Linked DNA regions of Homo sapiens: region 1 is linked to region 2. Evidence: fine-mapped expression QTL. A gene starts in region 2. The other region holds a variant in brackets. All regions are shown on one strand. Distances are from middle to middle.

What was found. PIP is the estimated chance that this variant, and not a neighbour inherited with it, causes the effect.
Region 1: its variant is the best candidate, but not a certain one, in a credible set for the expression of SOCS3 in kidney cortex (GTEx, PIP 0.84).

The regions. Positions count from the first base shown.
Region 1 is chr17:78,747,302-78,752,669 of GRCh38, forward strand. The region is part of intron 1 of CYTH1 (cytohesin 1); the gene reads right to left. Among named protein-coding and RNA genes, the nearest start is that of CYTH1, 32 kb to the right of the region's middle. RefSeq lists enhancers at 1,613-1,672, 1,733-1,802. The variant G/A (reference allele first, on the strand shown) is at 2,942.
Region 2 is chr17:78,357,204-78,362,571 of GRCh38, forward strand. SOCS3 (suppressor of cytokine signaling 3) reads right to left here and starts at 2,874. Exons shown (of 2, transcript NM_003955.5): 1 at 2,547-2,874; 2 at 1-1,980. The coding sequence starts at 1,892. The coding sequence ends at 1,215. It overlaps SOCS3-DT (SOCS3 divergent transcript), which reads left to right and starts at 3,245. Exons shown (of 5, transcript NR_110847.1): 1 at 3,245-3,570. RefSeq lists enhancers at 1-283, 2,230-2,878 and silencers at 1,986-2,225, 2,636-2,915, 2,926-3,235, 3,296-3,495, 3,726-3,775.

The DNA.
Region 1 (5,368 bases), 390 kb after region 2:
GACTTTTAAGAAAATGCACACTCTCAGCAGCATTCTCTGGTATTTAGGAAGAGATCTGGGGAGACTCAAATACTGCACTGCGGTCCCAATCTTGAAGGATCTAGAGGTCAACATCTGCGGGGAGGAGGCACTGTCTGGGAGAGGCAGGACATTTTTAGAGAATACTATTCAGTGATTTTAGCATGTTCACAAAGTTATGCAACCACCACCACTATCTAATTCTAGAACATTTTCATCATCCCCAAAAGAAAACCCCATACCCCATAGGAGTCACCCCCATTCCCGCATCCCCAAACCCCTGACAACCACTAATCTACTTTCTGCCTCTACAGATTTGCCTAATACATGGCCTTGTGTGACTGGTTTCTTTCACCTGGCACAATGTTTTCTATGTTCAGCCATGTTGCAGCATGTGTCAGAACTTCATTCCTTTTTATGACTAAAGAATCTTCCCTTGTAGGGACAGACTTCATCTTCTTTACCCACTCATGAGCTGATGGCATCTGGTTGTTTCCACTTTGGGGTTCTTATGAAAACTGCTGCTATAAGCACGTAAAATTTTGTGTTGTATAGGATCTTTAAAACTATATCTATGTTCCACTTTGATTAAAATAAATTTCACAGTATTTTTGGCCCTTGAGCCCCTATGCTCGGGTCCACTCTCACACTGTGGAGTGTACTTTCATTTTCAATAAATCTCTGTTTTTGTTGCTTCATTCAAAAAAACAAAATAAAATAAATTTCACAATATTTTCTACTTTTCTGAACCCTACCCATTATTCAAAGTCCAGCTCTGCAGCCTCCTCCCATCACATGGCTCTCTCACTGTCCGCCACTGCACCCCACACACCGGAAACAAACTAAAGATGCTGACCCACATTTGTGGTAAGTTTCACCTCTAAACATTCTCTGATTCTGAGAGCTACGAGTCCTATCATCAAAAATGAAAACTCTATGGAACCAGCTTGGCGTGGTTTTACTGGATCACTGAGTAGTCATGCCAGGTGTCCCGTCAGCTGGTGTAAGTATTGATCATCCTGCTGTGTGATTAACAAATAGTTTCAACACAGTCCTGGGTCAAAGGAAAATGTTTACACATCCAACAGGCCCAGGTTACTGTAGGGGACAACAATGCCTAGGTTATCAGGAAAGCTCACTGTTTAACTGGATTCAAGGAATAAATTATAAGCACCAGCCATTTAATGATAAATACAATTGATCTTTCTAGTACTTTTATTACTTGAGAGAATACAGGAGAATTGTCTGAAGAAGGGGGTAAGGGAGATTATTCAATTAATTCATTGGGTTTTCTGTATACTTCTAAACCAAATTCAGTTAGGAATTTTTACCAAAAAATTCCAGCCTTAATTCAAGGATGTTTATGAAAGCAAAGTTCTCTGATCAAATAAGAGTAAGTAAAAACGGGTGGGCGGGAGGAGTGTGCTTGCTTTTGTCCCTTGTTGCTTTGGAGATCTACTTTGATACAGGAGCACTGCAGATCCCCTTCCTGTTTCCTTTGCTCTCCTGCCTTACTAATTATATATCACCCCTTCCTTGCAAAACCACAAGACCAAATGTTACAAGTTACAAAATTGGTGTACTCCACCCATCCTTTACTCAGCTGACACAGAGCAAACTGAACCAGCGCGGTCCTGCCACAGCCCTGAAGACGGAACCATCACATGACAGAGGAGCTTGCGAGAAGGGCCCAACACACCCACATACTGTGTGAGGCAGAGCAAAGGTGGCAGCAGTAAGACCACCAAGGTCAGCCAGTCCAAACTTCTTGATACCTGTTATTGATTTAAAAACAAACTAGGCCAGGCATAGTGGCTCAGACCTGTAATCCCAGCACTTTGGGAGGCCAAGGTGGGAGGATCACTTGAGCCCAAAAGTCTGAGACCAGCCAGCACTTTGGGAGGCGAAGGCAGGCAGATCACCTGTGGTCAGGAGTTCAAGACCAGCCTGGTCAACATGGCGAAACCCCGTCTCCACTAAAAATATAAAAATTAGCCAGGCATGGTGGTAGGCACCTGTAATCCCAGCTACTCGGGAGGCTGAGACAGGAGAATTGCTTGAACCCAGGAGTCAGAGGTTGCAGTGAGCAGAGATTGTGCCATTGCACCCCAGTCTGGGTGACAGATTGAGACTCCATCCCCCCTACAAAAAAAAATTTAAAAATTAGCCAAGTTTGGTGGGTGTGCCTGTGGTCCCAGCTACTCAGGAGATTGAGGTGGGAGGATTGCTTGAGCCCACAGGTCAAGGCTGCAGTAAGCTATGATCATGCCATTATATTCCAGCCTGGGTGACAAATTGAGATCCCTGTCTCAAAAAAATAATAATAACAAATAAAAATAAAAAAATAAAAAAAAACCTAACTAAGCAGAAACCATTGTTTAAAATCTAATTATCTTGCTTTAGAAGGCAGGTGGTTTCAGAAAAAAAGAACTCTAAAACAATCTATTTTTGAAGTGTTTTTTTCCCAAGATTTTCTCCAAGCTTTTACTTAATACATTGTTCAGATGTTTCTCTGCCCTAAAAAAAAAATTCCCTTACAGTTCAAAAAATATTCCTAACAGGTTTAGAAGCAGTCCTCAAATTGCAGAAACTACTATTACCCAAAGAAATACCAAGTGCTCCTAAAATAATACCACATACTTATTCCACAAAATATTTCTTAGCCTGCTCCCTCTGGGTCTGAAAAGGATAGCAAATCAATGGCCAGGGGGTGAGAATATGCTTCTCCACGTGCCCAGAAGGAAGGGAACATGAGATATGGGTGCACAGAGTGGCATCAGCTACGGGAAGCTCATGTGGCATCCAGGCAAGTAATTCAGTGGCCTCCACTAGCACATCAGCAGCAGAGATGCAGAAAAACAGATTACTTCAAGATGCGTTTTGGAAGTAGAATAAACCATACTACTAATGAACTGGATAGGCA[G/A]AACAAGAGAAAGGGAAGGCTGATATCAAAACATTCAAAACATTTGATGGGAACACCTATGTGAGCGGATATGCTATTTCTCAGGTGGGGTGAATAAAGAGGGACACAGCACCAGGGGCTCTGCTGTGGCCATGCCAACTGTGAGAGACCCTGTAGGTATCCCCCAGGAGATGTCAAATGTGGCACTGGGATGTCACAGCCTGAAGTTTAGGGGTAGGAAGAGGGCTAAGCTATAGCTGATTCTTGCTATTCAAAGTAGTTATTGTTTAAAAAGTTGTTGCTGTTGCCGGGCACAGTGGCTCATGCCTGTAATCCCAGCACTTTGGGAGGCCTAGGCGGGTGGATCACGAGGTCAGAGTTCGAGACCAGCCTGGCCAGCATGGTGAAACCCCATCTCTATGAAAAATACAAAAATTAGATGGGTGAGGTGGTGGGCGCCTGTAATCCCAGCTACAGCTACAGGCAGGGAGTATTGCTTGAACCCGGGAGGTGGAGGTTGCAGTGAGCCGAGATCACACCAATGCGCTCCAGACTGGGCGAGAGAGCGAGACTCCATCTCAAAAAAAAAAAAAACAAAAATAGTCATTGCTAACACTGAATTGGAAAAGACTAAACCGTTGCTCCTAGGGGAAATACAGGTTAGGTTCCTACAGACCTCTGGTCACACTTTTGTCAACTGAACAATACATAACCTTGTTTATATGGGTTTCTGTTTAAAGATGGCTTATTTAATATATATTGTTGTGTTTTGTTTTGTTTAAGACAGGGTCTCACTCTGTCACCCAGGCTGGAGTCCAGTGGTGACATCCTGGCTCACTGCAACCTCTACCTCCCAGACTCAAGCAATCCTCCCACCTTAGCCACCTGAATAGCTGGAACCATGGGCGCATGGCGGGGGGACATGGGCTCTATTTTTAGTAGACACAGGGTTTCGTCGTGTTGCCCAGGCTGGTCTCAAACCCCTGGGCTCAAGCAATCCACCTGCCTCAGCCTCCCACAGTGCTGGGATTACAGATGTGAGCCACCATGCCCAGCCAACTGTTGATTCATTAACATTGAACTCATGGCCAACAGCACTGTAACTCATTCCTGAGCAAAGCTTCGCTAACATACTATATTTTCTCCATAAGGCACATCATGGCCTCTTGTACTTAGGAACAATAGACAGAAATTCAGCATTATGATTAGGGGCTATTTTAAAGAGCAAGTCACCAGCAAAGGCACAAAAATACAAAAAAAAAAAAATGTAATGCTAAATAGACCACATAAAGGTCATTTGTTTACAGTATGAGGGCTGAAACAAGAAATCAGTCACCTTGTTTCACAGTGGCTGGAAATGTGTACACTGAGCAAACTGCATTTTTCACTGCTCTGTGAATGTCCAGAAATGACCACGAAAGGACTACCTTTGGACTGATTTGCGGGTTACAAATAAGCTTTAGTGAGTAGGAAAATTCATGAATACAAAATCCACAAATAACAAGGATTGACTGCATAAACGAAGAAGGAATCAGAGTACAGGTATCTCTCTGCTATTGGTTATATCAAATGATAATTTCATCTTTTTTGTTTTTTGTTTTGTTTTGAGACGGAGTCTCACTGTGTCACCCAGGCTGGAGTGCAGTGGCATGATCTCGGCTCACTGCAAACCCGGCTAATTGTTTTGTATTTTTAGTAGAGACAGGGTTTCACCATGTTGGCCAGGCTGGTTTCGAAACCCTGACCTCGAATGATCTGCCTGCCACGGCCTCCCAAAGTGCTGGGATAACAGGCGTGAGCCACCGCGCCCGGCCTCAAATGATAATTTCAAATAGTCTAGTTCAAAGATCCTATTACTGGGAAAGAAACGGAGAAATTTAACCTATTTTACTAATTTGCAACATATTTCCTAGATGTTTGAAATAAGGACTCCTCCATCTCCCTCTCTTCGCCAGTTACAAGGCTGATCATATGATCTCCATGTTCAGATTTCTTTTTCTATTTCTAGTAGGTTTAGAGCTTGTGAGGAAAAAGGGAAATGTTAGTTATTACTCTTTTCCACTGTAAAGGAGTTTTTTAATAAGCATTTTTATAGAGATTTTCATAGAAATTACCTTTAAAAAGTACCTAATTGGAGTAAAATCTCTACTATCAATAAAGAGTACCAGGGCTACAGGGATAAACAATGCTGCCGATCATCTCAGACAGGACAGAGAACTTCTTTTTTTTGAGACAGAGTCTTGCTCCGTCACCCAGGCTGGAGTGTAGTGGTGTGATCTCAGCTCACCACAACCTCCGTCTCCTGGGTTCAAGTGATTCTTCTGCCTCAGCTTCCCGAGTAACTGAGACTACAGGTGCGCGCCACCACGCACAGCTAATTTTTGTATTTTTAGTAGAGACAGGGTTTCATTATTGGCCAGGCTGGCCGCAAACTCCTGAGCTCATGAT
Region 2 (5,368 bases):
TGGCAGAGCGGGAGCACCCGGGGTGGCAGCAGTCCAGCCTCTCCAATGACCTCCAGCCTCCCCCACCCAGGCAGGAGGGAGGGCTGTGCAGGGCTCGGGGCAGTGGGACCTGGTGGCTCTGCTCTGACCACGAGGCGCCTGACTGGCCAATACTTACTGGGCTGACATTCCCAGTGCTCAGCTGGGAGGCATGGGTTTCCGCCCCCCCTCCCCACTTCCCTGGCTGTGGGCTGGCTTGGTGCCCTCCAGTGAGTCCCTCAGCCTCTCCACCCATCCAGGCTGAGTATGTGGCTTTCCTATGCTGGGTCCCTCTCCATGGGACAGGGAGCATTTAAGGCGAATCTCTTAGCCAGACATAGTCAGGAGGCACAGAGTAGAATCCCCTGTCTTCTCTACCAGGAGCCTGAGGTGAAAGATGTCCCGTCTCCTCCATCCTCCCGCTCCATCCACCCAGGTACAGGAAGGTATAGTATGAGTAGGAAAAGGAGACCAGCTGACCAGCCCATCCATCCCCTCCAAATGTTGCTTCCCCCTTAAAACGGAGGAAGGGCCCTGGGCTCTCAGGCACCAGGTAGACTTTGGAACCTGTGTTTTCGGTGACTGTCCCGGAGGAGAGGATGTGGGGTACCAGGATGGTTCCCTTCAGGTCACCCCAAGCCCTTCTCCCCGGAGCCAGGGAGAGGAGCATGTCACCAGGATCCTCGCCTGGGGTGGGCGGGGGGTGTGACCATTTCCTTCGCCAGCCCGCAGCCCTGGGGCCCTCAGGACCTCTCTCTCTTCCACCTTTCCCAGGCTCCACAACCAGCTCAGGTTTAAACCAAATCAAAGAGCAAACAAGTTCCGTTGGAAAGTTTGAAGATTCCCTGGCAGTTCTCATTAGTTCAGCATTCCCGAAGTGTCCCCTGTTTGGAGGCAGAGGGGAAGCTGAGGAATTGAAGGAGAATCCACTTGTGGTTGCTATCGTCCCACCAGGACAGCTGGCTCCTCCGGAGAAGCTGGAGACTCAGGTGGTACTCCCCCTTCCCTCCAACACATTCCAGGTCCGCCTGCCACATTCTGCAGGGAGAGGGCAGAGGGAGGGGCCTGTCCGCCCTCTTTCCCCCCAGAGCTACAGGACTCTCTCCTGGTTGGCTTCTTGTGCTTGTGCCATGTGCCACGGAGGAGAGGGGCCTGCGTCCCCTCTCCCGACCCATGCCCTTTGCGCCCTTTACCCCTTAAAGCGGGGCATCGTACTGGTCCAGGAACTCCCGAATGGGCCCCGGCAGCTGGGTGACTTTCTCATAGGAGTCCAGGTGGCCGTTGACGGTCTTCCGACAGAGATGCTGAAGAGTGGCCACGTTGGAGGAGAGGGGCCGGCTCAACACCAGGGGGATCTTCTCGCCCCCGGAGTAGATGTAATAGGCTCTTCTGGGGGGACTCCCAGGGAGTGGCTGGGCAGACGGCTGCTCGGGCACCTCGGAGGAGGGTTCAGTAGGTGGCGAGGGGAAGGAGGGGGCTCCAGGGGGCGGCATGTAGTGGTGCACCAGCTTGAGCACGCAGTCGAAGCGGGGCACGGGCTGCGTGCTCCGGGGATCGCTCTGCAGAGAGAAGCTGCCCCCCTCACACTGGATGCGCAGGTTCTTGGTCCCAGACTGGGTCTTGACGCTGAGCGTGAAGAAGTGGCGCTGGTCCGAGCTGTCGCGGATCAGAAAGGTGCCGGCGGGCTCGGCACTGAGCAGCAGGTTCGCCTCGCCGCCGGTCACTGCGCTCCAGTAGAAGCCGCTCTCCTGCAGCTTGCGCACTGCGTTCACCACCAGCTGGTACTCGCTCTTGGAGCTGAAGGTCTTGAGGCGCAGGCTGGTGTCCAGGGGGCGGCTCATCCCGGCGGCGGGAAACTTGCTGTGGGTGACCATGGCGCACGGAGCCAGCGTGGATCTGCGCGGCGGCGGCTGCAGCTGCTTCGCGGCCTCCGCACAGCGGCCGCTACCGCATCCCGGGGGGCTGCGGAGAGGAAGGCGCGAGCGCGTTGAGTGCCCGGAACCCTCCAGCGCGCCCGGCCCGCCCCGGCTCCCCTGCCTTCGCCGAGCGACTGGGGCACCCACTGCCCCGGGGGCCCTCTCCTGGGCCCGCGCTCCGATCCAGGCGCCTCACGGAGCCCGCACGGCTCCCGCCCCTGCCGGCAGGGTGGCCCCGGGCAGCCCCTTCCCAGGCGCGCACTGCAAGGGCGCAGCGTGGGAAACTCGCGCGCGGAAGTTAGGTCTCCAGGAGTGTGGCCGGGTGGGGAGCAGGAGAAGGGCCCCCGGGACTGCCTGGGCGCCGCTCAGTCCAGTAGCCCCGGGCGGTGTGGACGGAGGGAGAAACCCGAGGCACGGGGGTAGGGAGGGGACAGGAGAAGCCCGAAGGCCCCAGCCGGAGTATTCCGGGAACCTGGGATCTCCGGCTTCCATCCGCTCTGCCCCTACCTCGTCACCTCCCTGCCGGGAATGACCCGGGAAGGGGAGGGGAAACCGGGAAAAGCTCCCGGGACTGAGCGAGACCCCTCCCCACGCCGCGCTCCTCCTTCCTACCTGGTCCCGAATCGAAGTCTCCGTCCTTGGGGCTGAGCCCCCTCGGGTCCCCAAGGCGACGCGGCGGCGAGACGGCCAGCGGTGGCCCGCGCTGCGCCCAGATGTTGGCGGCCGTGAAGTCCACAAAGGAGCCTTCGCGCGCGCGTCCCTCGAGCTTCCCCTGGGCGCCCGCCCTGCCCCCTGCGCACCCCCGGACCAACCGGGAGGGGACCAGGAGAGGGACCGCGGCAAGGGGCCGCGGCGGGAGCTGGGCCGGGCGGGCGGCTGGCGGCTGGCTGCGTGCGGGGCCGAAGCGGCAGCAGCGGAGCAGGGAGTCCAAGTCGGAGCCGCCGCGGAGGCCGCGCTCGCGGGTATATAGGCGGCCGCCGCGCCCCGCCCCCCGATTCCTGGAACTGCGCGGCCGGCCTTCTTGTAATGTTTAGTCACTACTCGCAGCAGAGAAAGGCTGAGCGCGGAGGGTGAGGGAGGGGCCGCGGGCGCCGAGGGCGGGCCGCGAGCAGGGGCAGGGACCGGGAGGGACGCGCGCGGAGACAAAGCGCGACGAGAGGCGGCCGAGGCGGCCGGTGGGCGCGGCGCCAGCCCCGGCGGCGCGTTCCTGGCAGCGGCCCCTCCCCGCCGCGCGCTCCGCCCCCAACTTCTCATTCACACTTTCCCCCCACCCCCCTCCCTTCTAAGAAGGCTGATTTCTGGCAGAGGCGGGGGCGCCGCTTCGGGAGAGCGGGCAGTTCTAGGAGGCCGACCTGGAGAGCCTCCCGGTTCCCCTTCCCCTTTTCCCGGACCCCGCGGGGACACCCCCTCGCCGCCACCCGGGCCTCCCCGAGGGCCCAACTGCGGGTCAGGCGGCCCGGGCCAGCCGAAAGGGAAGTGGGGCTACCCCACAGCCAGGCAGCGGGGCTGGGGTCAGACCCGGGAGCCGGAGGTTGGAGACGTGCGACAGTCACCTGCGGGCAGATTCCAGAGGGGAGACCCAGGGCTGCAGGGGACGCCCCTTCGTGGCAGCTACCCAGCCTCGGCCCACTGCCAGGTTCTTTGCCAACCCTGACGCGAGTGTGGAGCCCCCCTCCCCTCCCCTATGAAAACGCTTTCATGCACTGGGGTCTGCAAACCTGGTTGGTCCGGTGTGGGTTGGGCCAGGTGCTCTCGGCCGGGCTGGAGAGCTCGAGGTGGAACGATGGCCCCAACCTACGGCCCGCGTCCGCCAGAGGGCGCCCTGGGGTCTCCTAGGGGAGGGCAGTTTGGTGCTGCGCGGCCCAGGCCTTGGAATAGGCACGCCAGGGATCTGCGGGAATGGCTGTCTCCGGAGCTGGAAAGGTGGCCGAGAAGGGGGCATTCACACCCCAGGCTGGGGTCAGACCTGGGAATAAAATTCTAGCAGGAGAGAATTTCCGGAAAGCAGTTTTCCGGGGTTCAGGCTACTGCCAGATGGCCCACACCCCCTGGAATGTGACCCCCTGCCTCTCTTGGGGTGGGGGAGGACTTGATCACTGGCGGGGAGGGGGTAGAGGGGAGGAGAGGAAGTGATTGAGGTGAAAGATTGGTTTGCTGCTGGTCACGTTGGCACTGACGTAGATAGTTTGGGCTTGGAGACCCGGGGCCAGCCTTATGAAGGATGGCAAGTTTTGTCATCTTGTCCCCAAATGGGCTGTGTGGTGCTGGGGACACCCGAGAGCTGCCTCAGTGGCATTTAGATTTTCACCTCTCGGGATGCAGACGCTGTGGGCCTGGGGCCCTGCGCTCTTCCTAGATACCAGGATAATGAGGTGCTGAAAGGGAAGGAAGAGACTGCCGCCAGGGACAGGGAGCTTGGGATGCCAGAACCCAGAACTGGCCCTTTTGCCGGCCCTGGAATTGATAGGTGCGCACTGCCTTTGCCACTGTATCCTCAGTCCGTGCCATCACCTCTCCCCAGCATGTGCTGGGGACTCAGTGAGATTTGGACAAGACACACAGTTTCTCTGGGCTTCCGTTTTGCCACCTGTAAAACTGGAGCCAGAACCTTTTCCTTCCCTTTGGCAGGCGGAGGCGAGAGGATCACTTGAGCATGGACATTCAAGACCAGCCTGGGCAGCAAAGTGAGCACCCCCATCTCTGCAAAAAATAGAAAAAAGTTAGCCAGGAGTGGTGGCCTGTGCCTGTAGTCCCAGCTGCTTGGGAGGCCAAGGTGGAAGGATCGCTTGAGTCAGGGAGGTCAAGGCTGCGGTGAGCCATGATCGTGCCACTGCACTTTAGTCTGGGCAACAGAGTGAGACCCTGTTAAAAAAAATAATAATAAAATGAAATAAAAAGGGCCGGGCATGGTGGCTCATGCCTGTAATCCCAGCACTTTGGGAGGCTGAGGCGGGTGGATCACGAGGTCAGGAGATCGAGACCATCCTGGCCAACATGGTGAAACCTCGTCTCTACTAAAAATACAAAAATTAGCTGAGTGTGGTGGCACATGCTTGTAATCCCAGCTACTTGAGAGGCTGAGGCAGGAGAATCGCTTGAACCAGGGAGTCAGAGGTTGTGGTGAGCCGAGATCGCGCCATTGCACTCCAACCTGGCGACAGAGCTCTGTCTCAAAAAAAAAAAAAAAAAAAAAAAGAAAGAAAGAAAGAAAAGAAAAGGAAGAAAGAAAAAGAACCTTTTGCCATAAGAGATTTGAAATTAAAAAAAAAAAAAGATTCTGCACATCAAAGCGTGATAGAAATAGAAGTAACCCAGTTAGTTCAACTCTCCCTCCAGCCTATCAGGAGAGCAGAGGAGGAAACTGGTTTATTCAACACATTTCACAAATATTGAGCTCCATGCACCAGGCACTGGGCTGGGCATTGATATATAAT